7 separate regions of the Homo sapiens genome follow, and regions 2, 3, 4, 5, 6 and 7 are each reported to be linked to region 1. The links are microRNA targets in miRTarBase. Many come from high-throughput screens and were not tested one by one. Region 1 holds a microRNA gene; each other region holds the end of a gene's coding sequence.
The links. The annotated mature microRNA hsa-miR-7977 reads UUCCCAGCCAACGCACCA and lies in region 1 at 2,034-2,051, opposite strand. An mRNA with a match to its seed (bases 2 to 7 or 8) in the 3' UTR can be bound and repressed. Matches are read on the target gene's strand: a 7mer-m8 pairs with bases 2 to 8, a 7mer-A1 pairs with bases 2 to 7 and ends in A, and an 8mer does both.

Region 2: miRTarBase lists RNF8 as a target of hsa-miR-7977. Seed matches in the 3' UTR shown: 7mer-m8 at 2,065-2,071 and 7mer-m8 at 2,198-2,204.
Region 3: the mRNA of LONRF2 is a reported target of hsa-miR-7977. The part of its 3' UTR that is shown has no 7-base or 8-base seed match.
Region 4: miRTarBase lists CORO2A as a target of hsa-miR-7977. Seed matches in the 3' UTR shown: 7mer-A1 at 2,983-2,989, 7mer-m8 at 3,324-3,330 and 7mer-A1 at 3,411-3,417.
Region 5: the mRNA of CCDC9 is a reported target of hsa-miR-7977. The part of its 3' UTR that is shown has no 7-base or 8-base seed match.
Region 6: the mRNA of ZNF546 is a reported target of hsa-miR-7977. Seed matches in the 3' UTR shown: 7mer-m8 at 3,009-3,015 and 7mer-m8 at 3,143-3,149.
Region 7: miRTarBase lists CAMLG as a target of hsa-miR-7977. Seed matches in the 3' UTR shown: 7mer-m8 at 3,132-3,138 and 7mer-m8 at 2,996-3,002.

Annotation. Positions count from the first base shown.
Region 1 is chr3:176,512,768-176,517,153 of GRCh38, reverse strand. MIR7977 (microRNA 7977) reads right to left here and starts at 2,051; the gene lies at 2,003-2,051.
Region 2 is chr6:37,389,719-37,394,104 of GRCh38, forward strand. It overlaps RNF8 (ring finger protein 8), which reads left to right. Exons shown (of 8, transcript NM_003958.4): 8 at 1,024-4,386. The coding sequence ends at 1,040. Among named protein-coding and RNA genes, the nearest start is that of RNF8, 38 kb to the left of the region's middle.
Region 3 is chr2:100,280,886-100,285,271 of GRCh38, reverse strand. It overlaps LONRF2 (LON peptidase N-terminal domain and ring finger 2), which reads left to right. Exons shown (of 12, transcript NM_198461.4): 12 at 780-4,386. The coding sequence ends at 974. Among named protein-coding and RNA genes, the nearest start is that of LONRF2, 39 kb to the left of the region's middle.
Region 4 is chr9:98,121,117-98,125,502 of GRCh38, reverse strand. It overlaps CORO2A (coronin 2A), which reads left to right. Exons shown (of 12, transcript NM_052820.4): 12 at 598-4,386. The coding sequence ends at 729. Among named protein-coding and RNA genes, the nearest start is that of TRIM14, 4.1 kb to the right of the region's middle.
Region 5 is chr19:47,270,688-47,275,073 of GRCh38, forward strand. CCDC9 (coiled-coil domain containing 9) reads left to right here. Exons shown (of 12, transcript NM_015603.3): 10 at 1; 11 at 395-500; 12 at 587-1,266. The coding sequence ends at 991. It overlaps INAFM1 (InaF motif containing 1), which reads left to right and starts at 4,198. Exons shown (of 1, transcript NM_178511.6): 1 at 4,198-4,386. The coding sequence starts at 4,233. RefSeq lists silencers at 2,580-2,889, 3,500-3,759, 4,120-4,386.
Region 6 is chr19:40,015,093-40,019,478 of GRCh38, forward strand. ZNF546 (zinc finger protein 546) reads left to right here. Exons shown (of 7, transcript NM_178544.5): 7 at 1-4,386. The coding sequence ends at 689. Among named protein-coding and RNA genes, the nearest start is that of ZNF546, 20 kb to the left of the region's middle. RefSeq lists an enhancer at 1-695.
Region 7 is chr5:134,750,563-134,754,948 of GRCh38, reverse strand. CAMLG (calcium modulating ligand) reads right to left here. Exons shown (of 4, transcript NM_001745.4): 4 at 2,792-4,190. The coding sequence ends at 3,999. Among named protein-coding and RNA genes, the nearest start is that of DDX46, 6.0 kb to the left of the region's middle.

The DNA of each region.
Region 1 (4,386 bases):
TTACATGTGCTGATGAGTCTTTTTATTCTTTTTTGTAAATTGTCTATTTAATTTTTTTGTTTAAGTTTTTATTGAGCTTGTTGTCATCTATTTGGTTCTTTACATATTCTGGATGTAAATGCCTTATCAGAAACATATTGCAAATATTTTCTTCCAGTCTGTGGATTATCTTTTCATTCTGTCAGCTATTTCTTTAGAAGTACCCAAGATTCTAATTTTGATGACCAATTTGACTATAGTTTATTTATTTTAATGGATTGTGGTCTCAATGTTATATTTAAGAAATTATTGACTAGCCAAGGTCAAAAAGATTTTCTCCTGCATTTTCTTCTAAAAGTTTTACAGTTTTAGCTCTTACATTTAGATCTTTGATCCATATTGAGTCAATTTGTGTGCATAGTTTGAGATAAAGGCCTAAATTTATCCTTTCTGCATGTTGGATATTCAATAGTCCTAAAATTAGTTGTGGAAAAGACTGTCCTTTCTCATTGAATTGGCCTGGCAAATTTTTTGAAGAAAAAGTTGACACAATTAGAAGGCTTTACTTCTGGACTCTCAGTTCCATTACCTTATTTATAGGCCTATCTTTATGTCAGTACCACACTATTTTGATTTCTATAGCTCCATAGTAATTTTATTTGTTTGTTTGTTTATTTATTTATTGAGACAGGGTTTCGCTCTGTCCCTGGGCTGGAGTGCAGTGATGTGATCTAGGCTCACTGCAACCTCTGTCTGCCAGGCTCAAGCCATCCTCCCACCTCAGCCTCCTGAGTGGCTGAGACCACAGACATGTGCCACCATACTTGGCTAATTTTTGTATTTTTTGTAGAGATGGGGTTTTGCCATATTGCCCAGGTTGGTCTTGAACTCCTGAGCTTAAGTAATTCACCTGCCTAGGCCTCCCAAATTGCTGGGATTACAGGTGCGAACTGCTATGCCTGGCCTACAGTAATTTTAAAATCAGAAAGCTCTTTTTGTTTAATTAACGAAACTTCTTTTAAGACAACGATAAGCTTTAAACATTTTCTTTTTTATATTATCTCTCTCCTCCAGTTTTTGTTTTGTTTTGTTTTGTTTTCCCAGTACTTTTCTTTCACAAAAGAAGCCTTCTTCAACTGTTAATTCTTGCTTATCTTCTCACGTTTAAAGACGGAGATTTTAAAAACTGTTTGAAGCTCTGAACGCATAGGTAAGACTGGTATACTTTGAGCTTCATTGCAGGATGATGTTTCAACTATAGTCACTGTTTGAGCATAAGTCAGGGAATAATTTATAAAATATTTGGCAACATTAAAATAATATGTCTTCTTTACTGGGAGAAATCTGCCACTGATTTTCTAAGCGAAGAAGCAGAAAGCACATGGGAAAAAATGATGTCACTGCCATCTTGACACGTTTGAAATCACAAATTATAGAAAAGTTGTATTCCTGATCGAAGAATCACTAGTATTACAGGAGTTATTAAGAAATTATTTTAGGCAGCAAGAGAGGGGAAAAGAGTCCTTGGTAAGGCTTTTTCTTTTAATAAAAAAGCAAGCCCCAAAACATTTCTTTTCTAACAGAAAGTGGCCTGAAAAACCAGACCTGCAAGCATTGATATGCAAATGCTGGTGGCTAGAAGCCAGGTCCAACCAATATGGTGGTTCCCGTGACTTTTTCTTTGTTGCCACGTATGCAGAACATCATGGTGACCAGCCAGGTAGCCATATGTGCATATTTAAAGGCTAGGGTGGGAGAGCTGGCTTTTTTGCAGGCTATGTGAATGACACACCTGGTCAAACCAATCCCCTGGCTCCTATGCAAACCAAACACCACGTCGTCCAGCCTCCCAATATAACCGACTGCTTTCTGCTACATGTGGGGTTTTCCATTTGGAGCCCTCCTCCCTCTGTATGAGGGAGCTGTTTTCTTCTTTCTTGCCTATTAAACATTCCACTCCTTAAACCACTCCACGTGTATCCGTGTCGCTAATTTTCTCCGTGCGAGAACAAGGACCTTGGGTGTTTCTCCAGACAACAGACCCATATCATTTTTGGTGCGTTGGCTGGGAAACCAAGGTACAATATCCATTGGGGTTGGTGAGCAGAAGAGCAAACTCAAAACCTGTCCTTTCATTCCGAGGCTCTTGGCTTCCATTTTAAAATCAAATCAAATCAATAACAGCATCTGTCAACCATCTAGATATGCTTAGTGTGGCTGCCATTCTTAAAGACTCGCATGTCAGCCTTGCTGGGGAGAACATGAAGACCCCCCTCCCTCCAATACCCTGGGTCATTGGGAATGTTGGCCGTGCTTCAAACCAGCTTTTCTGTTCATGGGGAAAATTAGCCATTGCATAAGGCGGGGAAAAGTTCTGAAGCAACTGAGAATTTCTGGCCAGGGCATTTCCTAGTGTTATTCAAAAGCTTCTGGACCGGACTCAGCCTCCAGCAGCCTGCCCAGGTGTTGGTAAAAGATCCCCAGTTATCCTGTCGCAAAACTTTTTTTCTGTTTCTATCCACGGTCGCTATGCCTCTTATTCTCTTTGTGTGTCGAATGTGTGGGAATTTTTACAGCCTAGGGAAGTAATCCTGTTAGGCAAGATCAGGAAATGCTGTAATAACCGGGGCTATAGCTCAGGAAAATGCTGTTGCAATCTTCTAGGAACAGAGGTCTCTGAAACCCCGGTTGTGAGATGAGTCCCTACTATGCTGCTGGTGGCACATAGTATTCCTAAGCCAACAGCGCCACCTAGTGGAAATAGACACCCTCTTCATAAGACGCATTGCTTGTCCGCTACAGTCCACCGCAGCTTCCTAATTTTTCCTTTTTGCCCCTTCCTACTGGAAACCAGGCTTTATGCTGCTTCTGTGAACAGGAAAATTCTGCCTTCAACAATTAGGAGTAAATTGTCCTCTGCAGCCAAATTTGAGTCCTGATCCTGTCCCATCAACAGGAAAGTCACGATTAGGCCCCCACATCCCTTTAAGGAAACTATTCTGTCTCCAATAAGACAGTCCTTAATTAGTAAGGGGATTTTAAGTCTGAAAGTTAACCAGAACCATTTTTCTAAGGGTTAAGGCTTTAACACGGGCCATAGTAGCAGGCAATCTAGCACATTCCCTCCATTAAAGGACACTTGCCTTTTATATAATCTTTCCCAAGGTCAATTTTTTTTAAGGGAGGCACACAGGTCACACAAGTCTAGGAAGTCAAAGGGAAATCACAGGCAGAGGACTAGAGCTACTTGAATGAGCATGACTAGCCCCAGTTGCTTGGTTTCTTTGGTGCCATGGCTTGGAGGGTCACACATACAACCATGGGCAGCACATTTAACAGGGTGCTGGGACCCAGGAACCAAGGAAGGAAAACAGTTGGGGGGACGCTCCCACTGTCTTCTTCTCCACTCTGGGTTATACAGAGAGAGGAAGGAGACAAAAGAGACACCTTTTTCTCACTTCTCTTTCTAGATGGGTAACAGATCATGTTCAGCATGTACTCCCCTGGAGTATATTCTAAAGCACTGGGACTGCTTCAACCCTGAGACTTTGTAGAAAGAGCACCTCATATTCTATGGCATAAGGGCATGGCCTTCTTACCATCTTTAAGACAGACAAACCTGGCCTGCTGGGGGGAGCCTTCATTTTAATACTGTCCAACAATTAGATATTTTCTGCAGATGGAAGGACAAATGGTCTGAGATACCCAATGTACAGGCTTTCTTTGCCCTGCGAGACGACCCAGACCTTTACAAGCTTTGTACAATTGACCCAGTTCTTTTAGCAGCATGACAGGCAAGCCCACAAGGAATAGTCCCCCAGAGCTAAAGCAGATTCCAGAGGAGCAATCTGAGACAGCTATTGAATGTCTCAACTCAGTTCCCCTCATCCAGAAGCCCCTCCAATCATACCATCAGGTCCTCCAGGTCCACCATCTCCAGTATTACCCACTTTCCCCACTTCATTCTTATCTCTGCAGGAAGTGCCTGATGAAAATCGTGCCATGAGGGTTCACGTTCCCTTCTCATTACAGGACCTTAAGCAATTAAAGGGAGACTTAAGCAGATTTTCTGATGACCCCAATAAATATATAGAAATTTTCCAAAATTTAACTCAGGTGTTTGACCTCACATGGAGGGATGTTATGTTGCTCCTAAGTCAGGCCTCACTGAAGCTGAAAAGCAAGCAGTTCTGCAGGCAGCAGAAAAATATGAAGATGAACAACATCTCCTATGGCAGACCAAAGAGAAAAAAAGGAGATAGGGAAGGTGAAGAAGTAATGGAAACTCCATTCCCACTAGGAAGAGAAGCAGTTCAAGTAGACAACCCTGATTGGAACCTCAATAACTCAGCAGATAAATGGAAAAGAAAGCACTTTTAAATGTGCATATTAGAGGGCCTACGATAA
Region 2 (4,386 bases), not on the chromosome of region 1:
AGTTTGCTTGAGGGGTGTCCAGAGAATTTCTTTCTTGTGGCTTCTGTATTCTTCTGTGAGCTAATAGTTGAGGCTGTTAGCTAAGAGGGAGGGAACCCTACTTGGTTCTCTCTCTCCAAGGCTGAGGGCATGCCCAGCCCCAAGGCCCACCACCTCAAAGGCTACCCAGAAGTGGGAGACGAATAACTTCTGTAGTCCTTTCAATCCCCCTAACAAAGCATTCCAGAATTCAGTCTCAGAGAAAGGGGACAATTTGGTTGGTGACTTTATTGTGCCTTTGGCATAGGCCAGGATTCCCACAAGGAAGCGGACTATTGGAAAAGCCTGGAGGCTAGTAAGTAAACAGCCTTTCTTGTCCCCTCCCTCTCTGAACACAGGAAGAATTCCCGCCTCTCCCTGCCTATTCCTGTATATAATTCATTCCTTTCTTTAACATCTTTAACAGATATATTGAGGGCCAGATTTGTGCTAGGCACTGTTCTAGATGCTGAGAATGTAAAAAGTGAAAATCTAAGTTAGATGTAATTAATGCTATGGAGAAAAATCAAGCAAGAAGGGGAGAAGGGGTGATGGTGAAAGCCTTGGCAATTCTTGATAGGGTAATCAAGGAAGGCACCTCTGAGCAGGAACTATTTGAGGGAAGCTCTGAAGGAGGTGGCCATGCTGCCATGTAGGGAAAGAGGGAATGGTAAGGGGGAGCATGCTGGTATGTGGGAGGGGCAGCAAGGAGGCTAGTGCTGGGGAGTGGAGTGAGCGCTGGGGAGTGGGTAGGAGAGGAAGCTTGAGCAAGACGCAGATTTTGTAGGGCCTTGTAGGCCTTTGAAAGGACTTTGACTTTAACTCACTGTGAGAGGAATGAGGAGTGGGCTTTGAGCAGAGAGTGACATGATCTGACTTCTGTTTTCTCAGTTCGCTATGGCTGCTGTGTGAGGAAGAGACAGGGTGGCGAGGCTGGAAGCAGGGAGTCCACGGAAGGGAAATACAGGCTCCTCATTTATTTATTTCTCTTCTTTTTCTCCAAAGCAAAGAGATTGTTCTGAAGACCGTGCTCTAAGGGCATTTGAAAGACTGCCAGGTAGTGCGAGCCTGAGATGGTCTGGAGGATTCTCTCTAGCCGTGACTCCGCTGCTCTGAAGGTCAACTGAGAAGTCTTGTGGGACAGAGACTTGAGTTAGGAAGCCCTCAGTCACTTGCCTTCCACGGTGGCCAGCCCTGCTGCCATCATTGGCTGAAGCACCACCAGGATTCACGGCACCCAACTGCTTCAGGGTACTTCGTAGACTCTGCCTCACTACATGTCGAAAGAGTTATTTGAGTTCTCTTCTGTTTTTTTTTAATTTGTTGTTGTTGTTACTGTTTTGATACCTCGGAAACACCTCCGTTGACAGTTGTTTTGGATAGGTTGGGTGTACCCCATGGCTGCCTCTGAAGGCAGTGTCTATTTTGAGAGGATGGCTTACCTCTTCTTTGTGAAAATACTATCTCATTTCCTGGAAATAAAATGTAAAACCTGTCAGTTGCTCAGCTGGGCTTTGGTGTATTTACCTTCCTTCCCTTCCTGCTCCCAGACAGTCTCACAAGTAAACACCAGCAGCTCATAGATTACAACCAAGAAAGTGACTGTATCAGATGATAGACTTCAAGTGAATGTCAGCCTAAGAGGCCAAGCTGCAGATCGTGGCAACAGATGAGCTCTGTTAACCTCCTGACTGTCGTGTTTCCTTTTTATTACAGAGGTGGGTCACTGTTTACCTTGTTTCAGGGGTGGGAGAAACTCCTTTCCTTCAGCTGGCATTTGAATGTTTCCAAATCTATTTTATCTGACGTCATGAACACACAGGCAATGATTTTATGACAACTTGATGTGCTTTTTTCTTTATTTTTCTTTTACATTAGAAGTTTTCTCTCTTTTCTCCACCTCTCCTTTATTTTTAATTTTAATTTTAATTTTTGAAACAAGATCTGACTCTGTTGCCCAAGCTGGAGTACAGTAGTGCAATCTCAGCTCACTGCAACCTCCACCTCCCAGACTCAAGCCATCCTCCCACCTCAACCTCCCAAGTAGCTGGGACTACAGGCATATGCCATCACACCCAGCTAATTTTTGTTTTTCTGTAGAGACAGGGTTTCACCATGTTGGCCAGGCTGGTCTCAAATTCCTGACCTTAAGTGATCCACCTGCCTAGGCCTCTAAAATGCTGGGATTACAGGCGTGAGCCACCACGCCCAGCCTATACCCCATGTATTTTCATAAAGGGTTGGAAACTATTGATTGCCAACTTTTTAAGGATGGTAGGGATTTTTTCTTTGTTGAATATACTGTGAATTTTGGGATTCTGGAGTCCTTAGTCTTCATTTCCATTCTTCTGCCCATGATTACTGATCAAAATACTGGTAGAGTCATGGAGGAAGTAAGTTAAATGTGGAAAAAATGCTTTAAAAGTACTTACTATAACCACATCATAAGAATTCTGGAAAAATAGAGAACAAAAGGAAAAGATTGTTACCACCTTGATTTAATAACTTCTTGTTTCCCCATACATGTGTTTTGTTTATAGATTGCATGGGTATATGTCAATTTTTATATGTTCTGTGTTTAGTTTACATATTGTAATTCATTTTTAAGAGAGTACAGACATACACTTTTTGAGTAGGCAATATGTTCACATAGTTTGAAATTAAAGGTACAAAATGGCGTAGAATGAAATGCCTCTCACCCTTTCCCCACAGCGACTACTTCCCACTCAGAGGCAACAAGTATTACAGTTGCTTGTATATTCTTCCAGAGATCTCTGTCTATACAAGCAAAAACACATGTGGTCTTTTTCCTTGCTTTGCACAAATGGTAAACTGTACGCTATTCTGAACCTTGCTTTTTTCAGATATATGTTGGCAACAGTTCCATGTCAGTACATAGTTTCCTTTCTTTATTACAGCTGCCTGTTTTTTCATTGTGTATTTGCACCATCATTTACTTTTCTGGCTTACTTTTGATAGAAATCTAGGTTGGTTCAAACCTTTTTACTCTTAAAACAATGCTGCAGTTAACACCCTTGTACATATATCTTTAGAGAGAAGATATTTTAAAAAGAAATACCTTTTTAAAAATTATTTTATTATTTTTTAATAGAGACTATGTTGCCTAGGCTGGTCTTGAAATTCTGGGCTAAAGCAATCCTACCACCTTGGCCTCCCAAAGTGCTGAGATTACAGGCATGAGCCATTGCACCTGGCCAAGAAGAGACATCTTGACTTGAGCCTGAAGACTATGTACAGAGACTGACCTCACAGACTGACCATTCCATCCCACAGCTGCTGGACATAGAGTGATTTGCAGCCCCTCCTTTCAGAGTACCACATCCCTCTCAAGTGTTCCACAACATCTAGGAAAGTGAGCTCTTAAAGACAGACTAAAAAGAGTAATAAATCAATACAACAACATTAAAAGCCAGACTAGCGGAGTTTGAATCTTGGCCCTGCTGTTAGTAACTGTGTGAGCCTTGGGCAAGTTACTCAGCCTCCTTGTGTCTTGGTTTTGGTTTCTTCATCTCTAAGTAATTATATCTGTCATTATTGCCCTGATCACAAACAAAAGCCTGAATGTACTATGTTTAAAAGACAAACCAAAAATTAACCCAAACTTGCATTATTTGTCTGAGCTACAGAATGTTCTTTCCTTGGAGAGATATCTGATATTAAACATCATCTGCATTTTACTTGCCTAGAAAATACACGGTAACTTTTCTGCCTTGCAGCATCAAACTATAGTACAGCTGAGCCCCAGTGCTGTGCAGTCTGACTCTAATTAAAGGCACCTTCTTTACAGCAGGGCTCTGGGGAACTGGAAAAGGGGGTTTGTTTCATTATCTGGTTTTATTAAGCAGATGAATGCAGCCAGCTATATGAAGCACTTTGCAGTGAATGGCAGGTGTCCCATATCTGGTTATGTTAACCTAGAAAGGGCTCACTCTACCTCTAGGCATGTTTCATCCCAACAATCAGACTGTGCCAAAGCAGGGGACTTTGTCCTTTGTGGATTGCATAGCTGGATACCCATCATCTGTTTCTCTGATTGGAAGCTGCTGTTGTACAGAAAGACCTGCATTTCCCCCTTGTCTCCAGTTCTCTCACTACTTTTTCCTCCTCTGTGAGTGACCATCCAGGCAGTCACCATAACTGCTGGAGTGTCTGGGATTGGTAGCTCTCTCCAACTGCCTGCTTGCTCTTTACAGCCTCTCTCTGTGACTGGAATCTCTCCACCTCATCGTATCTAAGGATAACCCAGAAACATGGGGTGTCCTAGGTATGTTTATCTCGACACTGAACCCCCTAGGCTTCTGATGAATCCAGTGATTAGCTAAATTTGACATAGAAAGTAAGAAGGAA
Region 3 (4,386 bases), not on the chromosome of region 1:
TCCTAGTCCTCCAGCATAATCTACCTCACCCTAAACTAAGGTGACTCCAGAGTTCACCCTCCCAGCTCTTATCGGCATCCTGCACATTTTTGGAGAAGGAATAGAGTGAAGAATCCTAGACCCTGGAAACAAAAAGGCCTGGATATCTTGGTTCCAGTACTAAGAATATTGAGAACGAGTTTATGATCGGCTTTTGCCTAGCACTTAGTCTAGAAGTGCTTTGTTTGATTATGTGAAATAAAGGTTATTTGGTGGCATAATAATTCTTATATATATAATTTATGATAACTCTTGCATATGACATGCATACATATATATGTTTCATACATACACTCATTTGCCACATTGAGTATGTCACTCAAACTTGTACACATACTTTTAGCCTTTATAATATTATGCTTTATATGGCATGCTTAAGACATAAAAAATAATAGCACAGAACATTGGAAAGTGAAGGTTAAAGTGATAGTATTCTCCTCTGACTGGTATATACTCTTAACTGAAAGCTTGAGAGAACAGAAGCAACTAATTCATAGAATCTCCCCATGGAAGATGCTTCTCTTTGCAGGCTCTTCCTTTTGTGAGTTCCCCCACCTTTAAATGTGTACCATAAAAGTAAACTATGTATTTTGAGAGCTGAATGAATTGTGAATTAGCCCTAAAATACAAGGTGGCATTTAATTCTTGCTCACGTGTCTGTTGGTGGAGCAAAAGACTGTGTTGGGGAACAGGCTTGCATTTCCAGTGTTAACCTTGCTTTCCCCTCATCTCTTTTGCAGAGTAATCCCAGCGGCCCTGCCTGGTCCTGGTGGATCCTGGCCGTGCTGCCCCTGGAGCGCAAGGCTCAGCTGGCCATCCTCGGCATGACCTCGCTCAAAGAGCGGCTCCTTGCCATCCGACGGATATTAGTCATCATCACGCGTAAGATGAATAGTCGGCAAGAGCTGGCTAATGCCAGGGAGAGAAATAATTGATTTTTCTCTCTGTCAAGGTTTCTGGCAGCCCTTGTGCTTTTATAAATGTCAGGCATGGACGAATAGCCGTCCATTCATTGTGCTTCATCAAGTGCTTGTGGATGAGGTTCCAAAATGGGACGCTTGCCAAACATTGAGTCCTCCTCAAAAATGACAATTCTGTGTCTGGTGGGATCTGACCTTGTGTGAGGTTAGCCTGAAGTCTGAATGGAGCCCATAGTTGGAAAACAACCTAAGAAAATCTCTTAGAAGCAGGTGCTTGGGGAATGCAGTTCACTGACAGCACAGGACCCTGCAGATGGTTTACATGTGGTTTGGGTTTCACGAGAAAGAAGGATTCACTTCCCAGTCAGCATCTGGCTCTGCCAGATGGTAAAGGCGTGCTTTAGTGTGTAGACAATATGGGGGAACCACGTTTTTATCTGGAAGTGGATTTCTTAGAACACAGGCTAACCAAAACTACGCTTAGGCTTTGCGTGTTGCTGTGAAGTTGTCTGTGAAATCGAATAATCACACCATTGTTCAGTGCAGGAGCCCAAACTAGTCCTTACCCAAGAAGTAGTAGCCTCTGGATAGAACTGTGTTTAATGTCCTGTTGTAGTCCCAGGTGTTGTAAATTGCATGTTGTAATCAAACGAATGTCAAAACATAAGAAAGTATACCTTGGATATAGAAAAACCTGAGAACAGTATCATTCACTTGAGGATATATATATATATATTTACACACAATAAAGTGAGTTAAAATTGTATATGCATTGGGATGTCAAACATAAAACCACCAAGTGCAAAGAATGCTTTGAAAGTAGAACCTTGTCTCATTGATCAGTGGTTACTAAGCATTTAGGAAACAGTCATCTTTTTCTATTGGGATTTGCATTAGAAATTAGCCCCATCAGTAAATTTCAGTTTACTATCCATTTATTAATATACAAAAACATTAAAAAATCTGCCATGCCATGGTAATCTATCTATTCCAGGAAAATAGATCAGAATATATGAAGGGAGGATGGCCGGTATGGGATGTAAATATTCAGTAAGTTTTTCTCCAACACCAACCTAAAATTATCTTTATTTTTTTGAAAGAAAGTTTTACGGTGATCAGACCAGGTGTTATCTGTTAAAGGACAGTAGTATGACTTCCATCCTGTAATGCACGTTGGTGATATTGATTGGAATAACTGAATCTGAGATACTCATATGTTCTCTCTGGCCCAACCAGCTGGTGCATTTGGTTGGCTTCCTCGTCTGTAAGGTGGACATTCTTAACCAGAGGGTCACGACCACATCACAGCTGCAAGTTTTGCTTTGTTCATTGAAGGTGATTTTTTAGTTTTAAAATATATATATCTCATAATATACAATGTTGATGGTATATCAATCCATCAAGCATTTTATTAGAAAGACTTTATAATATTATTAATTTTTCTTTAGTTTTCAGTAGATAAAGTAGTTTCAGTAGATAAAGACTTTATAATATTATTAATTTTTCTTTTAGTTTTCAGTCTCATCATGGGAGTTAGAAAATACCAGCATCACTTAATTGTAAAGAGAAAATGTGAAAGTATTTTCCAATCCAATGTTTCAAGTGCCTCACTTATTGTGAATCTCAAATATCATCTTGAGATGGTTTAATGGCAGTTTGGCCAAGTGATTTCTAAGAGATTTTATTAATTTATGCATTAACAATAGTATTCAACTTTCTTAGGCATTATAACCTAACCCGATCATTTGATTGGAATAACTGAATCATTCATTGATTGGAATAAAATAAAGAAAACAAAATGCATCTCACATGCCAGAAGACCTTTACCAGAAGTGGTTCATGAAAATCAGTATGCATTGACCATTCTCTGCCTTTCCCTTTTGGAAAATTTTTTTGTACCTTCATATCACAGCTGAATAGTTATCAATGCCATTTCCATTTGGAAGTATCTAAATAACCACAATGTGATCACAGCTTCTCCACGAGCCTTCCTGAAGTAAAGCTGGTATGCTTGCTATAATACTTGGAACCTGTTGCTTTCTCTTCCTCACTCTTTAAATGTCATAAGGTCACACAGTTCTTGGAATCAGAACTATTCAGTTATTTCTTCATGATTCTGCCTGGCTTTCTGAGTCTTCTCCTTCGGCATGTTATGTAAAAGTCTGAACAACAATGATGACGCAGACGAGAGCAACATACGTTTTTATTTTTTGATAGGTTTTTATTTTTTTGATACCAGAGGGAATTAACTATGATCACATCGTGCTCTCTCTGTTCAGCATCACACGCCCACATACTGCAGTGTGGGAGTAGATTGGTACTTACTGAGCACTTAGAAACATCACGCATCAGGAACCGGGTCAGGGTGACAGCATCCTACGGTCATATCATGAAGGAAGCCTCCCTTACAAACCTAAAAAAAAAAAACCCCAGCTTCAGTTTGCTACCAATTAAGCTAAAGCAGAACGGTCTGCTTCCTCCTCCGCCTGCCCCCTTCTGCCTCTTTTCTGTTGGGGAGATGCCAATTCTAAGGATTTCTCAGAAAATAATGTAATCTCTCATTCAATGTCAGGACATTCCAGCTTAATTGTACTGAAAGTGCTCCAATAGGCATGCTCTCGTTACATTGGAATCAAAGCAGAAAAGAGTAATAGCAGCGTGGGGGAGTCATTTTTCTTCTTGAGGAACAATACATGCTGTTCTGTATTTTTCCATTCATCGCCCAAACCTGCCTGTGTCTTTGAAATGCAAGTAAGATCCCAAAGGCAGCTTTCTGAAAGCCCGTGGCATTTTTAGCTTATCCCATCCCCCGTGTGTGTCCTCATCTTCAGAATTGAAAGTTAGGATACTTTTTAAAGTTTCAAAAGAAAATAATTTAAAATGTTAAGGTTTATCCATAGAAACACAATAATTCTTAACCAATTCATGTACCAAATTCAACAGTATTATCTCATTTTTAGGGTCACAAATGTGTCCTTTTTGCACTTAAACCTCCTCCCTCTCTCAAAAACAAAAACAAACAAACAAACAAAAAACACACCAAGACTGTTTAACAAATTGTATCTCAACTCTTAATATATGTTAAGTCTTACCACAGGACATTTGAATCATCAAGGAACAGTTGAAGTTTATGGATGGTAGAATAACAATGAACTATGATATTATCACTTTATTATAAACTTTTTGGAAAATTGGCAGTTGCTACCATCGAAATACTCCATTGCCTGTGTTACATAGAATTTGTTATAATTTTTAAGGGCTTTAAAAAAATACCCATCTGTTTCTTCTCCTTCTTGTTTTCTTTTGTGCCCCACCACTTAAATTACTTGGGTAAATACCACTCTTCAAAATTTGAATACTGTCTATCAAATAAGAAGAAGTGTGAAAGATATGAAGAAGAAAGGTGATAGCAAATTAGAAGAAAATA
Region 4 (4,386 bases), not on the chromosome of region 1:
ACACAGAGGCTGGCATCTCACAGATGGATTCTGATCCTGGCTCTGCTGAGTACTAATTTAGGGTCTTAGACCCAGAGACTGAATGTCTCTAAGCTTCCGTTTCCACGGTGGTACGGTGGGGACACTAGCACTGCCACCCTTATAGGGGTGTCACAACGTTCCAGTGGGATAACGAGGCCCTTAGGGCATCACTCAATATCTAACACCCATTCTGCACAGAGGGCAGTTTTCTGACCCCATTTTCCAGAGGAAGGAATGGAAGCTCAGAGTGGGTAAGTAACTTGCCCAAGGTCACACAGTTCAGTGGTGGCGAAAACACCAATCCCCAGACTTCAGAGCCAGGCATCCTTTCCTCTATTTCATGGAGGATCTATGGAAGCAAAATACATCTGAAACATTCCAGTCTTCTTGAATTTCATTTATTGGGTGAAGTAAACAAGGTGTTTGTAAAAGATCTATGCAGTGACAGCCCCATCAGGCCTCAGCCATGTTAATGTGACCGCCTCCACCTTTCTGAGTCAAAGAGGGATAGTGGTTTAGCTTTCAGCTGGTGTCCTGACACCATGGTGATCCTGCCTTCCGATCTTTCTTCCCCAGTTGCTGCAGATGTTCTACCGGCAACAGGAGGAGATCCGAAGGCTCCGGGAGCTGTTGACCCAGCGAGAGGTCCAGGCCAAACAGTTGGAACTGGAGATCAAAAACTTGCGGATGGGCTCAGAGCAGCTCTGAGCAGAGACCTCTGCCCTCCTCACCCTCAGGGACACCACTCGGCTCCATGGGGAGGTTTAGAACCAAACCACAAGTCCCCTCAAGGACAACCACTATTTCTATATTTTTTACCAGAAAACAAAACTCTCCATCGCTGAAAGAGATTCCAGTGGGACATGGTGCCGTTTTTCTGTTTGCCTTCTTGCAACAACAGTTTCTGAATTGACTTTGTTTTCAGATGATGCCTTCTGTTGAATTCTGTTATTAAGGGCCCATGATGAGCTGTAACTTCTCAAGAGGAAAGAACACAGTAGAAAACTAGAGCTGGAAGGATCTAGGTTGACCTGTCTGTGATTTTCAAACTGTGGTCCAGAGAATAGGGGAAGACTGGGCCAGACGCAGTGGCTCATGCCTGTAATCCCAGCACTCTGGGAGGCTGAGGTGGGCGGATTGCTTGAGGTCGGGAGTTTGAAACCAGTCTCACCAGGCGCAGTGGCTCACGCCTGTAATTCCAGCATGTTGGGAGGCCGAGGCTGGTGGATCACGAGGTCAGCAGTTCGAGACCAGCCTGACCAACATGGTGAAACCCCATCTCTACTAAAAATACAAAAAAATTAGCTGGGCGTGGTGGCAGGCGCCTGTAATTCCAGCGACTTGGGAGGCTGAGGCAGGAGAATTGCTTGAAACCGGAAGGCGGGGGTTGCAGTGAGCTGAGATTGTGCCACTGCACTCTAACCTGGGCAATAAGAGCAAAAGTCTGTCTCAAAAAAAAAAAAAAAAGAAAGAAACCAGCCTGGCCAACATGGTGAAACCCCGTCTCTACTAAAAATACAAAAATTAGGCAGGGCGTGGTGGTTCACGCCTATAATCCCAGAACTTTGGGAGGCCAAGCTGGGCGGATCTTCTGAGGTCAGGAGTTCAAGACCAGCCTGGCCAACATGGTGAAACCCCGTCTCCACTAAAAATAAAAAATTAACCAGGCATGGTGGTGCATGCCTGTAATCCCAGCTATTTGGGAGGCTGAGGCAGGAGAATCGCTTGAGCCTGGGAGGCGGAGGTTGCAGTGAACCAAGATCATGCCACTTCACTCCAGCCTGGGTGACAGAGTGAGACTCCGTCTCAAAAAAAAAAAGTTGGCCAGCCGTGGTGGTGAGCGTCTGTAGTCCCTGCTATTCGGGAGGCTGAGATAGGAGAATTGCTTGAACCTGGGAGGTGGAGGTTGCTATGAGCCACGATTGCGGACTGCACTGCAGCCTGGGTGACAGAGCGAGACTCCATCTCCAAAAAAAAAAAAAAAAAGAGAGAGAGAATAGGGGAAGACTAAGCAGGAAGGCTGTGTCTCCCTTCCCCACACTGTATTCCAACCAGACAGCTCCCTTCTATTTTATATGTTGGGCTAGTATGAAAAACAATTCTGCTAGGAAAAAAAAATTTTTTTAGAAGTTTGAAAGCTAGTGATTTGACCCAAGTTCCTCATTTTACAGCTGGGGAAACTAAGGCCTAGAGAGAGGCAAGTGATATTTGTTTCATGGCAGGGCTGGGCTGAGATCCTGCTTTTCTGGGTCTGTCTTTTTGCTCTTTTGGGTCTGATGCAGTTCTCAGCCCAAAGAGTAGAAATCTGTTGCTTCTGGCCTCAGCTGTGCCCCAGCTTACTCAGTGACCTCTTGCAAGTCCTGCCCTCTCTGGTCTCAGTTTCTTCATCTGAACCAGGGGTACCCTGGAACAAGCTGCTCTCTGCAGGATCTGCCACCTGAAACCTTGACCTAAGAGAAAACTACCTGTGGGGTGATCTGGGTTTGCTACAGAAACTAACGGACACTGGCAAGGGGTCAGAGGCATTCAACCCAATTCTACAACACAGGCAGGTGGTCAAAACCAACCTTTCCAACCAGAATCAGCCTGATATGGATAGATGCTGTCCCTTATGGAGGGACGCAGACTTCAGAACTGTGCCCATGACTGCTGACTGCCACCACCAAGGCCCTCAGGTACACAGCCTGCCTCCTGCAGGATGATGTGGGCAGATTTCAGCCCTAGTTAACAGAAGAGTCCCCCAGGAGGTAGGGGGCCCCCATCACTGGAGACATGCCAGCAGAGCCTCTGGCCACCTAACCAGGAGGTCTTCTGAAATGACTATACGAGGTAAAGAAGTAGTACCAGATGGTCCCAAAGTTCCCTTTTAGCCTGAAAGCTTTTCTTTGTCCCTCCTTAGTGAATCTGTGTTCCGAGCCCTACTCTAAAGTTCAGTGGTCAATACAATAGTCCACCAAGAGACTGGGAATGATTAGAAGTGAAATTGGTCCCTCCTTACCAAGGAGGGGCAGATGATCTCCATTGCACAGGGCGATTAGATTCTGGAGCTGAGGTGGGGACTGCAGGAGGCCACCTAGTCTGGTAGGTTTCAACCCAAGCTGTGTACATTAGAATTCCCTTGGGAGCGTGCAGGAAATACAGATGCCCATGCCACATTCCAGACCAACTGAAGCTGAATCTCCAGAGTAGGGCCTGTATGGTCATATAAGCTCCACAGGTGATCTGCAGTACAGTGAAGATGGAAGACTGCATGTGTACCTATTTGCAATAAAGATGAAGAGGACAGCAAGCTCCAGACAGGAGCTGGGACTCAACCCAGATCTCTTAAGTCCTGCCTGGTGGCTCCTTAAAAGTCCAGAAGTGTTGCCCCAAGCCCTCCCTCAACATCTCTGGGAACCGCAGCTGCAGCACGATGGGGGTTCAGTGCCCCTGTTTGCCCCTTACCCAGCTGTGGTTTATTCTGCTTGTATGTCTGCACAGGCCGGATGCTCGTGTTCCTTGTCTTATTCTCCATTTACTCAGTCACTGGGGCTCACTCCCGTCTGATGCACTAGCCAAGATTGCCTTAGTGTGCTCCAGAAAAGAAGGCCAAATCCCAGGCATTGTCAGGGCAGCAGAGCTCTACAGGATAGGCTTACCTTTCCCACCTGTGTGGCTAGCACTTCACAGTTTACAAATTCCTCCCACCTCCACTCAGTGACACATGCTGTTCTAACACAGGTCAGGCAGGCATTACAGTCCCCATGTTCAGAATCAAAGACCTAGCCTCAGAGAAGTGAAGAAACATCATGCCAAGGTCATTGACTGCCAAGCGGTAGAGGTGGGGTTGCATCCAGAGAGCTTCCCGGTATGCCTCTGCACAATGCCATTCCTTGGCCAGCTCCCTCCACCCCAAGGGACCCAGACTGCACACTTAACAAACAGGACACAGGTGTCTTTGAACAAACTTTTTTGTATTATTATTTTTACATCTAGAATAAATTATTTAAATTATTTCACAGCAAGGGAGAGGGATAGGTAATTTTTATCAGATATTTTTTTAAACCATCTGTTTTTTAAATTACATTTTTGTTTATGTTCTTGAGCTGATGTAGTGGAACTTGCCTAGCACATTCAGGTCCCAGCCAGTTGGCAGAGCATGCTCTCATCTCCTTATTCCATACCCTGGGCGTCCCCTTTCTGTTGACTCAGGAACTTTCTGAGAATGAGGACAGCACTAGGAGATGAGCTTTGGCAGGTATCCACCTTAACGCTACAATAATTGTGCTTCCTGAAACAAAACTTGAGATTGTATCATAGAAGGAAACAGGAAGTCAGAAATCAAATCTATGCTTTTAATTGAAACCGTGCCTGAAACAGTTTGAA
Region 5 (4,386 bases), not on the chromosome of region 1:
GGTGGGGCACCCCTTCTGCGGGCTTGCATACCCCCAGGGCTCTCCGCAGGGCGTTCTCTTCTTTGGCTTGCTGTGAAGGTGTGGGTACATCTGTCTGTCCCTGTCTTTGTCTTGGCCCTGTCTATCTCGCAGGTCCGTGGTTTGAGGGGCTTGGGATCTGGCTCTTGGTTTTACCCTCATCTGTCCCCTTTCTGCCGTCACCCATCTCCTCTCCTGCTACCTGCCCCACTTTCGTTCTGTCCTTGACACATGGGGACACACATCCGCCATTCCCTCAGCCCTCCACCATGCCAGATGCTCTGGGCAGCTCCTCCCTAGGGAGGGTGGAGGCAGGAAGCCCCTTCCTCCTGTCTACTCTCCACCCAGGCATCACCCCTCCCTCTGTTCCCTCTAGTGACCATGATGACCGCTGGGAGACAAAAGAAGGGGCAGCATCCCCAGCCCCTGAGACTCCACAGCCTACTTCCCCCGAGACTTCCCCCAAGGAGACACCCATGCAGGTGAGGCTGGGCTGTGGTTCAGGGCACGGGCCTGGGGTGGGGGCTCAGGACCTGTGCCTTGCCCTGACTTGCCTGTGTCCCCAAAGCCACCCGAGATCCCAGCTCCTGCCCACCGGCCTCCTGAAGACGAGGGGGAAGAGAATGAGGGGGAAGAGGATGAAGAATGGGAGGACATAAGTGAGGATGAGGAAGAGGAGGAGATCGAGGTGGAAGAAGGTGATGAGGAGGAACCAGCCCAAGACCACCAAGCCCCAGAGGCTGCCCCCACCGGGATCCCCTGCAGTGAGCAGGCCCACGGAGTCCCCTTCAGTCCGGAGGAGCCCCTGCTGGAGCCCCAGGCCCCTGGCACGCCTTCCAGCCCTTTCTCACCACCCAGCGGCCACCAGCCTGTGTCCGATTGGGGTGAAGAGGTGGAGCTGAATTCTCCCCGGACCACTCACCTGGCTGGCGCCCTCTCCCCGGGTGAGGCCTGGCCTTTTGAGAGTGTATGAAGCTGGCTGCCTGTGTGTGTGTGTGTGTGTGTGTGTGTGTGTGTGTGTGTGTGTGCGCGCGCGCGCGCGCGCGCGCGCGCGCTAGAGGGGTGTGGCTGGTGGGGGACCCTTGGGGCTGGGCCCTGGGACCCAGTGTGCCCCACAGCCCTGTCAGCTGAGGGGGTAGCGCAGCCCATGCTCTTCTGTACTGTCATGCCCGTCTCTGGAATGTCCACTCCCAGAGCCTGCCCCAGCCCTTCGAGCCCCCTCCCCAATAAAGAATTCACATCCTCCAATGACATTCCCCCAGGTGTGTCCTTGAACCCCCTTCAACTCCCCCTGGGCCTTCTCTCTTGGGGTGGGGAGATGTCAGGCGGGAAAGGGGGCTTGACTGGGGCTCCCCTTCCCTAGGAGGTGGCCAGTCAGCCCCTGCCTTCCCGGAGAGTGGGCCCAGCCTCCGAGGAACCCAGGAAGCTGAAGAGGAAGGGTCTGAGGCAACTCCAGGTGGGGGAGTGCATGGGGCATGGGATGGAGGCCGCTGCTTCCTCTTTCTCTGGGGCTGAGGGGCAGAGGGCTTGGGGGGAGTGGGGTGAATGTGTGTAGGTAGCAGTTGGACCATAGAGGTGAGGTGAAAAGGGTGAGCTCGGATAGGGATGGGGGGCTGGAGCCGGGTGGCAGGGGTGGGGCAAAGGGGCAACTTTATGGGCCAAGCCAATAGGAATTTGGTATGGAGGTTGAGGAGGTGGGGTTAAGGAAAGGATTAGAATTTTGGAGTCGAGCTCAGGGGTTTTGGAAAGCACTGGTTTAAGAGTAATGGGGTGTGGATCGGATGCCTTGGCTCATGCCTGTAATCCCAGCTAATTGGGAGGCGGGAGGATCGCTTGAACCTGGGAGGCGGAGGCTGCAGTGAGCCGAGATCGCTCCACTGTACTCCCACCTGGGCGACAGAGCAAGACTCCGTCTCAAAAAAGGTGGTTGGCGTTGGTGTACTAGGGCAGGAGCTATAGGCAGACTACGAAATTTGAACTGGCTCGAAAAGGCCAAAGAGATGGGCAAGGGCAGAAAACTGGATTTAACTGTGGCTGGGATTAGAGTTCCGAGGTGCAACCTAGTGGGGCAAATTAGAATAGACATGCGTACCCGATCAGCATTTTGGGACCGACGAAGTGCGAGCAAGAGGCCAAGCCCCTCTCCACCTACACTCCGTAGGAGTAAGATTTCGAATCTCAGATGGCCTCCCCTTCCCCCAGAGTGGGATTAGGATTTTGGGGGCAGAGCCAAGGAAGGACTGGTTAGAATAGCAGGCGTTGGCGAAGGAAAGGGGAGGGCGGGTCCTCTAGGACTGGCTTGGTGGAGGTTGATGAAGGCCGTGAGATGGGGCGGGGGTGGGAGAGGACAGTTTGCAGCCTTGGGTGGCGCGGGGGCCCAGACCCTCTGTCTTGGGCCACTTGTTGGTCGGGAGCCAGATCTCGCCACACCCGCGTTTCCTCGATTGTAAACGGTTATGTTGGGAGTGTTTGCTGCTGCGTGGGTCCGCTGAGAGGATTAGTCTGGGCCCCGTAAACCGCTTAGCGCCGAGCCTGCTGTGGCAAGGGCTCGAACTGGATGAGAGACGTGGCTAGACGGGGGAGGGGTGCTGGGCCGGGGGGGAGGTGGGAAGACTGCTCCCCTCCGCTGACTCAGCCCCTTCTCTCCTCAGAGGCAGGCCCCGAAGGCCAGGAGACGGCGGAGATCACCGACTTCCAGAGGGTGCGTTTCTGCAAGGTGGTGGCGGCCCCTCCGCTGCCGGGGGCCGCTCGCTGACCGCGCCCGCCGGACCGCGGCCTCCGCGCTCTGCACTAACCTCCCACCGCCTCGCTCCTCTGTCCTCTGCTTCTGCCACACTCCAGCCAGGAGAGGGTTAAATCTAAGGGGGGAGGAGCCAGGGTCTGCGAGCCGGGCGGGGCCAGGGCAGTAGTCGGGTGCAGGCCCCACCAACGGGGGACGTCACGGCACTGGGACGGCTGGGACGCTTCCGCGTTAGTCTCCCATGGAGGCCCTGGGCGGCTCGAGCCAGTCTTCAGGCCGAATCTCCCGCCTCCAGGATTGCATCCGAGGCCTGGCAGCCGGTGACACTTCCGAAGGGCTTGAATTACTCGGGCGCCAGCCCTGTCGTATTAAACGCAGTGCTTCCGCTCACCCTTGAACTGTGTTTCTGGAGGGGGCAGGCTGGGTCGCTGTGCTTGGCGGGCTTTTCTGTGGCGGAAGAGGCGGAAGGAAGGGGTCTTCCTCCACCCTTCTGATCCGTCTTCCCTCCCCCCTCCCGCAGGCCTCCCCGAATTCCTGAAGACGCTGCTGGGAGGGGACTGAAGCTTCCCCGCCTTGATGGGGAGGGGGCGTGAGGAGGGGTTTATCTGGATTTCCAGGCTGTGTTCTTTCTACCCCAGAGCCTAGTCTGGACCCCTTGGCTCTAGGGAGAGGGAAAAGCTGACCGTTGGGGAGGAGCTGGGAGAAGGGGCGCGATTGCGGTGAGGGGCGGAGCTGGAACCTCGGGGCCTGAGGTGCTGAGGATACCTGAAAGCGGGCTGAGAGTGTGCTGGAGGAGGCGGGTCCCGCGGGGGCGGAGCTAGGCTGCCTGGGCGGGGCCGGAATCCTGACAGGCGGAGTTAGAGCGGGGGGCGGGGTCAGCGCGCGCGGGTGGGGCTCTGGCCATGGGCATGGGGCGGGGCCGTCAGCGGGGGCGTGGTCGGGGTGTCGCGCGGGAACCCGCGCGGGAGGAGAGCGGGGATTCCGGAACTAGAGTGTGGGAGCCAGAGGCCGTAGCGGGCAGGGCTCGAGCACTGGAGTAGAGCAGTCCGACAGGTAGAGAAGTGAGACTGGCTGCGGCACAGGGCGGGTTAGGGCTCCAGGCAGGGCTTGAGCGGGACGAGGGGGCGGGCTCCGAGGCGGGCTAGATGCCTGGGCTGGATGAAGTCCGAGTCTGGGAAGAGAACCGTGTTGTGGCGGGAGGAGGCGGTGATTGGGGTGGTGGGGCTAAGCGCGGGGGCGGGGCTGGAGCGAGGGGGGCGGGGTAGCACCTCCGCCTGTCGGTGGTGGGGCGGAGGCTGGAGGGGGTGGGCCTAGGATGCGGAGGCGGCAGCTCGCGTGGGGGCGTGACCATGCTGGCGGGGGCGGGGCCGGAGGCGGGCGGTTTAGAGAGCGGGGCGGTCTGCGGGGTGGGGGCGGGGCCTGGTGGGGGCGGGGCCTGTGCGGTCTGCGGCGCGGAGCCGAGTGGGCTGCGGGGATGCGGGGGACCAGCTGCGTGGGCGGCGGCGCCGAGAGCCCCGGAGGCGCGGGGCTGAGCGAGGGCCCGCGGGGGCGCTGGCTGCGCTTGGCTCCGGTATGCGCCTACTTCCTCTGCGTCTCGCTAGCTGCCGTGCTGCTCGCCGTGTACTACG
Region 6 (4,386 bases), not on the chromosome of region 1:
CCTACATATGTAATGAATGTGGGAAAGCCTTTCGATTTCAAACAGAACTTACTCAGCATCACAGAATTCATACTGGTGAAAAACCCTATAAATGTACAGAATGTGGGAAGGCCTTTATTCGTAGCACTCATCTCACGCAACATCACAGAATTCATACTGGTGAGAAACCCTACGAATGTACGGAATGTGGGAAGACGTTTAGTCGGCACTATCATCTTACTCAACATCACAGAGGCCATACTGGTGAGAAGCCCTACATATGTAATGAATGTGGGAATGCTTTTATTTGCAGTTATCGACTTACATTACATCAAAGAATTCACACTGGTGAGCTTCCATATGAATGTAAGGAATGTGGAAAGACCTTTAGTCGTCGGTATCATCTTACTCAACATTTTAGACTTCATACTGGTGAGAAACCTTATAGCTGTAAAGAATGTGGGAATGCCTTTCGTCTTCAAGCAGAACTTACTCGACATCACATAGTTCACACGGGTGAGAAACCCTATAAATGTAAAGAATGTGGGAAAGCCTTCAGTGTTAATTCAGAACTTACTCGACATCACAGAATTCATACTGGTGAAAAACCCTATCAATGTAAAGAATGTGGAAAAGCCTTTATTCGTAGTGATCAACTTACTTTACATCAGAGAAATCATATTAGTGAGGAAGTCCTATGCATAATGTAAAGAGAATACGATGGCCTTTAGAAAATGCCCTTTAGCAGAGAATTTGTAATTTAAGAAATTTTCTGTTTGTTACGGAACATGTGGGAATCCCTTTTACTTCATGCTCACAATTTATCAGAAATTATTTCGTATGTTAAAGAGTCGAAAGACTATAGCATCACTCAGTCCCTGTTAGACTTTAGAAGATTGATACTGATGCACTGCATCCCAAACCATCAAGGGCCTTTTCCCCTACAAACTGTTGTTGAACAGTGCTTCTCTAAAATGCAATAATAATGGGCCAGGTGAAGTGGCTCACACCTGTAATCCCAGCACTGTGGAAAGACAGGAGTTCGAAACCAGCCTGGGCAACATAGTGAGACCCTGCCTCATGGCTTTAGTGAGCCATGATTGTGCCACTGCACTCCAGCTTGGTGACAGAGTGAGATCCTGTCTCTAAATAAATAAATAAAATGCGGGCCAGGCACAGTGGCTCACACCTGTAATCCCAGCACTATGGGAGGCCCAGGTGAGCAGATCACCTGAGGTCAGGAGTTCAAGACCAGCCTGGCCAACATGGTGAAACCCCTTCTCTACTAAAATACACAAATTAGCTAGGCATTGTGGGGGGTGCCTGTAATCCCAGCTACTCAGGAGGCTGAGGCAGGAAAATTGCATGAACCTAAGTGGCAGAGGTTGCAGTGAGCTGAGATCGCACCACTGCACTCTAGCTTGGGCAACAGAGCAAGACTCTGTCTCTTAAATAAATAAATAAATAGATTACCAGAAAAATGAAAAGAAAAAAACAGACATACAAAATAAAAGCCCCAGTTTTTTATTATGGTATTTAACTGAGTTAACTCTGTCAGATTGCTGCAAACATTTCTAAATACTTGCTCTTGGTATCTATAACTTTTGCAGAGACCAGAAGCAAACAATTTGTGGGCCAGTGTCAACACATGGACCACACTTTATATAGCACTGTAACGGAAAATGATTCTGTTAATGTAATGAACATGGGAAAGACCAGCCTTGGCCTATCTTTATGATATATATAAATAATATAATTCTCATAATTCCACCTCTGCCTATGTGGTGTTTGGCAAAACATGCCCCTGTGCCTTGGTTTTTAAAATGGTAATAACAGTACCACCTAATAGTATTTTTGTGAGGATGAAATGCTAATAAAAGATAAAACCTTTAAAAGAGTATTTGGCACACAGCATTTTATCAATAAATATTGCTTTATTTTTTTCATTGGGGATACATTTAGTACATTCATGTGAGAGGAAGGCCCTGTGGGTGTAAGAAATTTGTAAAAACTGTCCATTACCTTTCACTCCTTATTTAGATTGGAATAATTAACTGGAGATAATATCCAGTAAAATAGATTAAACTTCCATTTATAAAGTCAGAACCTATCTCTGAAAATTAATGTGAGAAAGAAATCTCTAGATTTGATGGGTGTGAAGATTATGAGAGTAAAGTTTTGAAGACTCAGGGATAGCTGTAATGCTTTTTTCTTTTTATAACCCAAAAAGCAGGTATGTCAGTCGCTTTTTCTGCCCACAATGATAAATTAAAAACAGCCACTATCCATTTGGAAAACTTAAAAGAATAATGAACAGTTATGTTCTATCTAGATTCAGCAATTGTTAATATGTTGTCACATTTGGTTTGCTTATACATAATATTTACATATTTTGCTGTAGTATTTGAGTATAAATTGCAGATACTATAACACATCACATCTAAGAATAAAGGCTGCCTCCTACTTAATTGCTATATAACAATTGTCCAACCTGTCTGTGCCCCAGGGCAGCTTTGAATGCAGTCCAACAGAAATTTGTAAGCTGTCTTAAAACATGAGATTTTTTTTGTGATTTTTTTTAAGCTCATCCGCCATTGTTAGCACATTTTATGTGTAGCCCAAGATAATTCTTCTTCCAGTGTAACCCAGGGAAGCCAAAAGATTTGACCCCCAGTAACTTCACACCTAAGGAGATTAGCAATAATTCCATAATCTGTAATATTCAGTCTGTGTTCATATTCTCAGTTGTGTTCATTCTTTTCATTTGTGTAAACAATGCTTTTCATAGGTTATTTTTAAATTCAGGAACCAAATTCATGAATTACATTTGTGCATTGTTCGTCTCTTTTAAAGTAAGAATGGCCCTTCCCCCCACAACTTTATTGCAACATTGACTTTTTTTTTTTTTTTTTTTTTTTTTTTTTGAGATGGAGTCTCTGTCGCCCAGGCTGGAGTGCAGTGGTGCGATCTTGGCTCACTGCAAGCTCCGCCTCCCGGGTTCAGGCAATTCTGCCTCAGCCTCCCCAGTAGCTGGGACTACAGGCGCCTTCAACCATGCCCGGCTAATTTTTTGTATTTTTAGTAGAGACGGGGTTTCACCATGTTAGCCAGGACGGTCTCGATCTCCTGACCTGGTGATCTGCCCGCCTCAGCCTCCCAAAGTGCTGGGATTACAGGCATGAGCCACCGCACCCGGCCTTCCCAAAGTATTTTTAAATGTGCTTTTTTATCCCCAGTATTTCCCATTAACTGGAATTTGGGATTAGAGACCCAATTAGGGACAGATTAAATATTTTGGCAAGAATACTTAATGGGAGAAATTTTGTATTTCAATTTGTAACCCATTAGGTGGCATACAATGTCATTATACCACTATGGTATCCTTAGTTCATTCACTTGGTGTAGCAGAACATACATTCCAAAGATGGCCACACCAATATATCCCATTCTGCATGTTCATCTTACAATGTGATACCAACACTCCCCAAGAGGTAGAGCTCATGGTCCTTCCTTTTGAATCTGGCCAGGTGGGCCTGTGTTTATGGCAGGAATAACACTGTGATTTCCACGACTAAGTCATAAAAGGCAATACAGCTTCTGCCTGACCCACTTGGGATGAAGCCCAGCCACCATGCTATGAAGATGCCAAGTAATCACATAGAAAAGCTAAGTAAAGCTGTCCTGATTACAGCTGTAATTGAGGTAACAGCCGGGATCCAGCACCAAGTGTATGAGGGTATGAGCCTTCAGATGATTCTAACCCTTAGCCTTCAGGCTATCCTAGCTGGTGCTAAGTGGAGCAGAGAAAAGCTTTCCCCCATGAGCCTGCCCAAATTGCAGATTTACGTTTAAAATATGGCCTGTTTTAAGCCACTAAGTTTTGGAGTAGTTTGCCACACAGCGATAGGTAACTGAAATACTTGCTTCATATGGTAATCACCAGGTTTCTCTGTTGTAGAGCTAAATATTTCTTTTAATTTAGTAAACGATCTGTAGAGTAGTACTTTGGCATTTCGGAAATTTAAAATCTCCAATAATATAATGACACTAGATCAAAAAGAAAATGAAACCATAAAGGACAATTTAGAAATGAATGGTAAGATCAGAATTTGTGAATGTGGCCAAACCTGTGCTCAGTGAAAAATCAGTAACCTGTTAATATATTCAGGAAACAAATATTGAGGGCCAGCACTTTGTTTCTCCTGCTCACCACTCTACTCCCAGTGACTTAATACTGTCTCTTTAACATAGTAATCACTTATAAAACTGTTAAAAGAATGAAGAAGCATTAAACTCAAGAAACTAAGGGAAAAATAAGTCAATATAAGAAAGAAGGGAGGATCATTAAAAGGAGTTAATGAATTTGAAAATAAAATAGACTTATTAAGGCTTTGTGAAAAAATATTA
Region 7 (4,386 bases), not on the chromosome of region 1:
TTATCTATTTAGATAGGTGAAAGAAATGACTATAGTCTGTGTTCTAATACATCACTTTCAGTAAACTAACCTGTTTTCCAAAGCAGCAGATTTTGACTGTGACTTGACTTACTAACCCAGTATTGAATATCTAATAACCCACTTGCTGTTTTTAGTGCCAACTGTGATGACACATGTCCATTTACACAACTAATTGAACTAAAAAAACTACTAGGTTACATGGTCAAGATGTCACCTCTAAACAACCATCCTTGTCCCTCTAGTTTTAATCCATATACCTTTTTTTTTTTTTTTTGAGACAGAGTCTCACTCTGTTGTCCAGGCTGGAGTGCAGTGGCGCGATCTCAGTTCACTGCAACCTCTGCCTCCCGGGTTCAAGTGATTCTCATGCCTCAGCCTCTTGAGTAGCTGGGATTACAGACGCGCCCGCCACCACACCTGGCTAATTTTTTTTTGTTTTGGTTTGGTTTTTTTAGTAGAGACAGGGTTTCACCATGTTGGCCAGGCTGGTTTCAAACTCCTGACTTCAAGTGATCCACCCGCCTCGGCCTCCCAAAGTGCTGGCATTACAGGCATGAGTCATGGTGCCCAGCCAGTCCATATACATTTCAAAACCCAGAAATTTCCAAATAAAAAACGTTTTAAACTATTCCAAACACTAAGAAACTTCAATTCCCAGGCCAGGCGCAGTGGTTCTCGCTTGTAATCCCAGCACTTTGGGAGGCCAAGGTGGGTGGATCACATGAGGCCAGGAGTTCGAGACCAGCCTGGCCAACATGGTGAAACCTGTCTCTACTAAAAATACAAAAAATTAGCCAGATGTGGTGGCATGCATCTGTAATCCCAGCTACTCGGGAAGCTGAGGCATGAGAATCGCTTGAACCAGCCCGGGGGGCGGGCAGAGGCTGCAGTAAGCTGAGACTGACATCACTGCACTCCAGCCTGGGCGACAGAGACTCTGTTCTGAAAAAAACAAAACAAAAATTAGCCAGGGGTGGTGGCACATGCCTGTGGTCCCAGCTACTTGCAAGGCTGAGGTGGGAAGATTGCTTGGGCCTGGGAAAGCAAGGCTGCAGTGAGCCCTGATCATGCCACTGCACTCCGACAGGGGCAACATAGTGAGACCTTGTCTCAAAAAAAAGAAACTTTCAGGTCGGCTGCAGTGGCTCACACTTTTTTTTTTTTTTGAGACAGAGACTTGCTCTGTCGCCCAGGCTGGAGTGCAGTGGCACGATCTTGGCTCACTGCAAGCTCCGCCTCCCAGGTTCATGCCATTCTCCTGCCTCAGCCTCCCGAGTAGCTGGGACTACAGGTGCCTGCCACCATGCCTGGCTAATTTTTTGTATTTTTAGTAGAGACGGGGTTTCACCGTGTTAGCCAGGATGGTCTCGATCTCCTGACCTCATGATCTGCCCGCCTCGGCTTCCCAAAGTGCTGGAATTACAGGCGTGAGCCACCACGCCCGGCCTCACACTTTTAATCTCAGCAAATTGGGAGGCTGAGACAGGCAGATCACTTGAGGTCAGGAGTTTGAGACCTGCCTGGCCAACATGGTGAAACCGCCATCTCTACTAAAAATACAAAAATTAGCCAGGCATGGTGGCAATGCCTGTAATCCCAGCTACTCACTACTCAGGAGGCTGAGGCGTGAGCACTGCTTGAACCTGAGAGGCAGAGGTTGTACATCATGCCACTGCACTCCAGCCTGGGCAACAGAGTGAAACTGTCAAACAAAACACAACAAAACAGGCCGGGCGCAGTGGCTTACACCTGTAATCCCAGCACTTTGGGAGGCCGAGGCAGGTGGATCACCTGAGCTTTGGAGTTCCAGACCAGCCTGACCAACATGGAGAAACCCCGTCTCTACTAAAAATACAAAATTAGCTGGGCGTGGTAGTGCATGCCTATAAACTCAGCTACTCGGGAGGCTGAGGCAGGAGAATTGCTTGAACCCCAGAGGCAGAGGCTACAGTGAGCCGAGATTGTGCCATTGCACTCCAGCCTGGGCAACAAGAACGAAACTCTGTCTCAGAAAAAAAAAAAACAACACAAACAAACAAAAAAAACTTTCATTTCTACTTGATATTATTCAACAAATCAAGCAAATGATCAGGGAGATGCCTATCAGTTAAAGACAAAAAATGGCACCAATAGATACAGATATCTTATAACTGTCTTCAAAATATAAATTTGATAATGATCTACAATTACTAAAATTTTGCATGTGTCAGCTGGCTAAATGATTTTTTTTTTTTAAGAAAGAAAAGTAGGCCAGGCACAATGGCTCATACCTGTAATCCTAGCATTTTGGGAGGCCAAGGCAGGAGGACTGCTTGAGCCCAGTTTGAGACCAGCCTGGGTAACATGGTAAGATCCTGTCTCTACAAAAAATCAAAAAATTAGCCAGGCATTAATGGTCCCAGTTACTTGGGAGGCTGAGACAGGAGGATTGCTTGAGCCCAGGAGGTCAATCAAGGCTCCAGTGAGCCATGATTGTGCTACCACTACACTCCAGCCTGGACAACAGTGGTAAACACTGTTTGGAAAAAAAAAAAAGCACCAAAAGAGTAAACATGTGCAATGTGCAATTGAAGACCACTAGTATCTTCTCAGCGATTAAGGAAGTGACAACTTTAAGGATGATTTACAACCCTTTAGATACTAGATTCATTATGGAATCAGGAAAAATGTGTGCTTATAATCTTTCACCCAAATCAGAAGAATAGACTTAAATTATTCTTCATTACCCTGGTTCAAAATGAAATGACAGAAATCAAGACTTAAAGAGTAATTTTTTAAAAAGTGTATGTGTTTTTAATGTCACAAGGATTAACCAAATTAGACTATACAAAAATCTGTAAGGAAATGTAACACCAAGTGACATTAACACTTTAGTCTTATATTCTTTTAAGAAGACAACCCAACAAAATATGGCAGTTACTGAGTTAGTTAAAAGGATATTTATAAGGCCAGGTGCAGTGGCTCACGCCTGTAATCCCAGCACTTTGGGAGGCCGAGGTGGGCAGATCACCTGAGGTCAGAAGTTCGAGACCAGCCTGACCAACATGGAGAAACCCTGTCTTTACTAAAGAATATAAAAATTAGCTGGGCGTGGTGGTGCATGCCTGTAATCCCAGCTACTTGGGAGGCTGAGGCAGGAGAATCCCTTGAACCAGGAAGGTGGAGGTTGCGGTGAGCCGAGATGGCGCCATTGCACTCTAGCCTGGGCAACAAGAGCGAAACTCTGTCTCAAAAAAATAAAAACAATGTTTATAATAACTCATCTAGACCATATTTGGGGGGAAAAAGGACATTTATGCTATTGGGTTGCATGCCTCAATTCTTCACATCCCATTTTGTTTTTGCTTGCTTAAAACATACTTCTAAAAAGTGAAACTCAAATGTAAAAAGTTCCAATTCTGAGTTTGGTATACAGCAATAAAAATTTTATAAATACCTTCCAATTTCACATGTATGAATCTTTTCTTTGATTAAATACTTGTGCTGGAGTAAAAATTAAGATACTAACTCAACAAGAAAAGTTACAATGTGCAGAGTTAACATTAGACAATTCAGTTTCTTTCATTTTATTTTTCAGATGACTTCATTTCTCAGGACAGAATGACACAAACACAAGAAGCAGTCTCTAGGGCTGGCTGAGACCACATTTATCTGTTCTCCTAAAAGCACTAGCTCAGCTCCCAAAAGAAGAATTACAAATCTGAGAAGTTAGAGGAAAGGTACAGAATAGGAATTCTGATTAACAAGAAAAATCAATTAATGACATTGGTACTCTATTCTTCATATCAGTAATAATACAAACTCAGCCCTTTTAAATCAGAGAATCTGCCATTCTATATCTAATAAAGTAGCTTTACAACCCCTAAAGTAAAAGAATTACATGAAGGTGTAAACCAATTTGCCTCCTTTAGAGACACTGCAATATAGAAGAGGATTTTTTTTTTTTTGTAAGCTTCTCCTTCTCAGTTCTACAGGCTTCATGGTACTTCAGAGCCCCAATAATCAAGCAGTTCATGACAAAAGATAAAAGTGAAAAAGTAGACACAGAGATCTGTGAAGACTTCGCCCATTTTGCTATAGGTATCCATTGATCGATTTATCACTTCGGCAGGAATTCCCGACAATAGAAGTGCAGCTGTTAGTACTGTTGTCTTTATCTTCTTTTCACTCTGTGTAGAGAAAGACTCAAATTAATCTTCAAAGTTTCAGCAGGCTACATTAAGCTCTATACAAACATGATCAGTACTGCTGTTTTTAACCGAAATGATTTAAAAACTGTTAATGATGTTTCAAAACAATCAGTAAGATACCAACATTTACTGAGCATATAATATGTAACTCATCAATCTGCTAGGCAATAGCAGA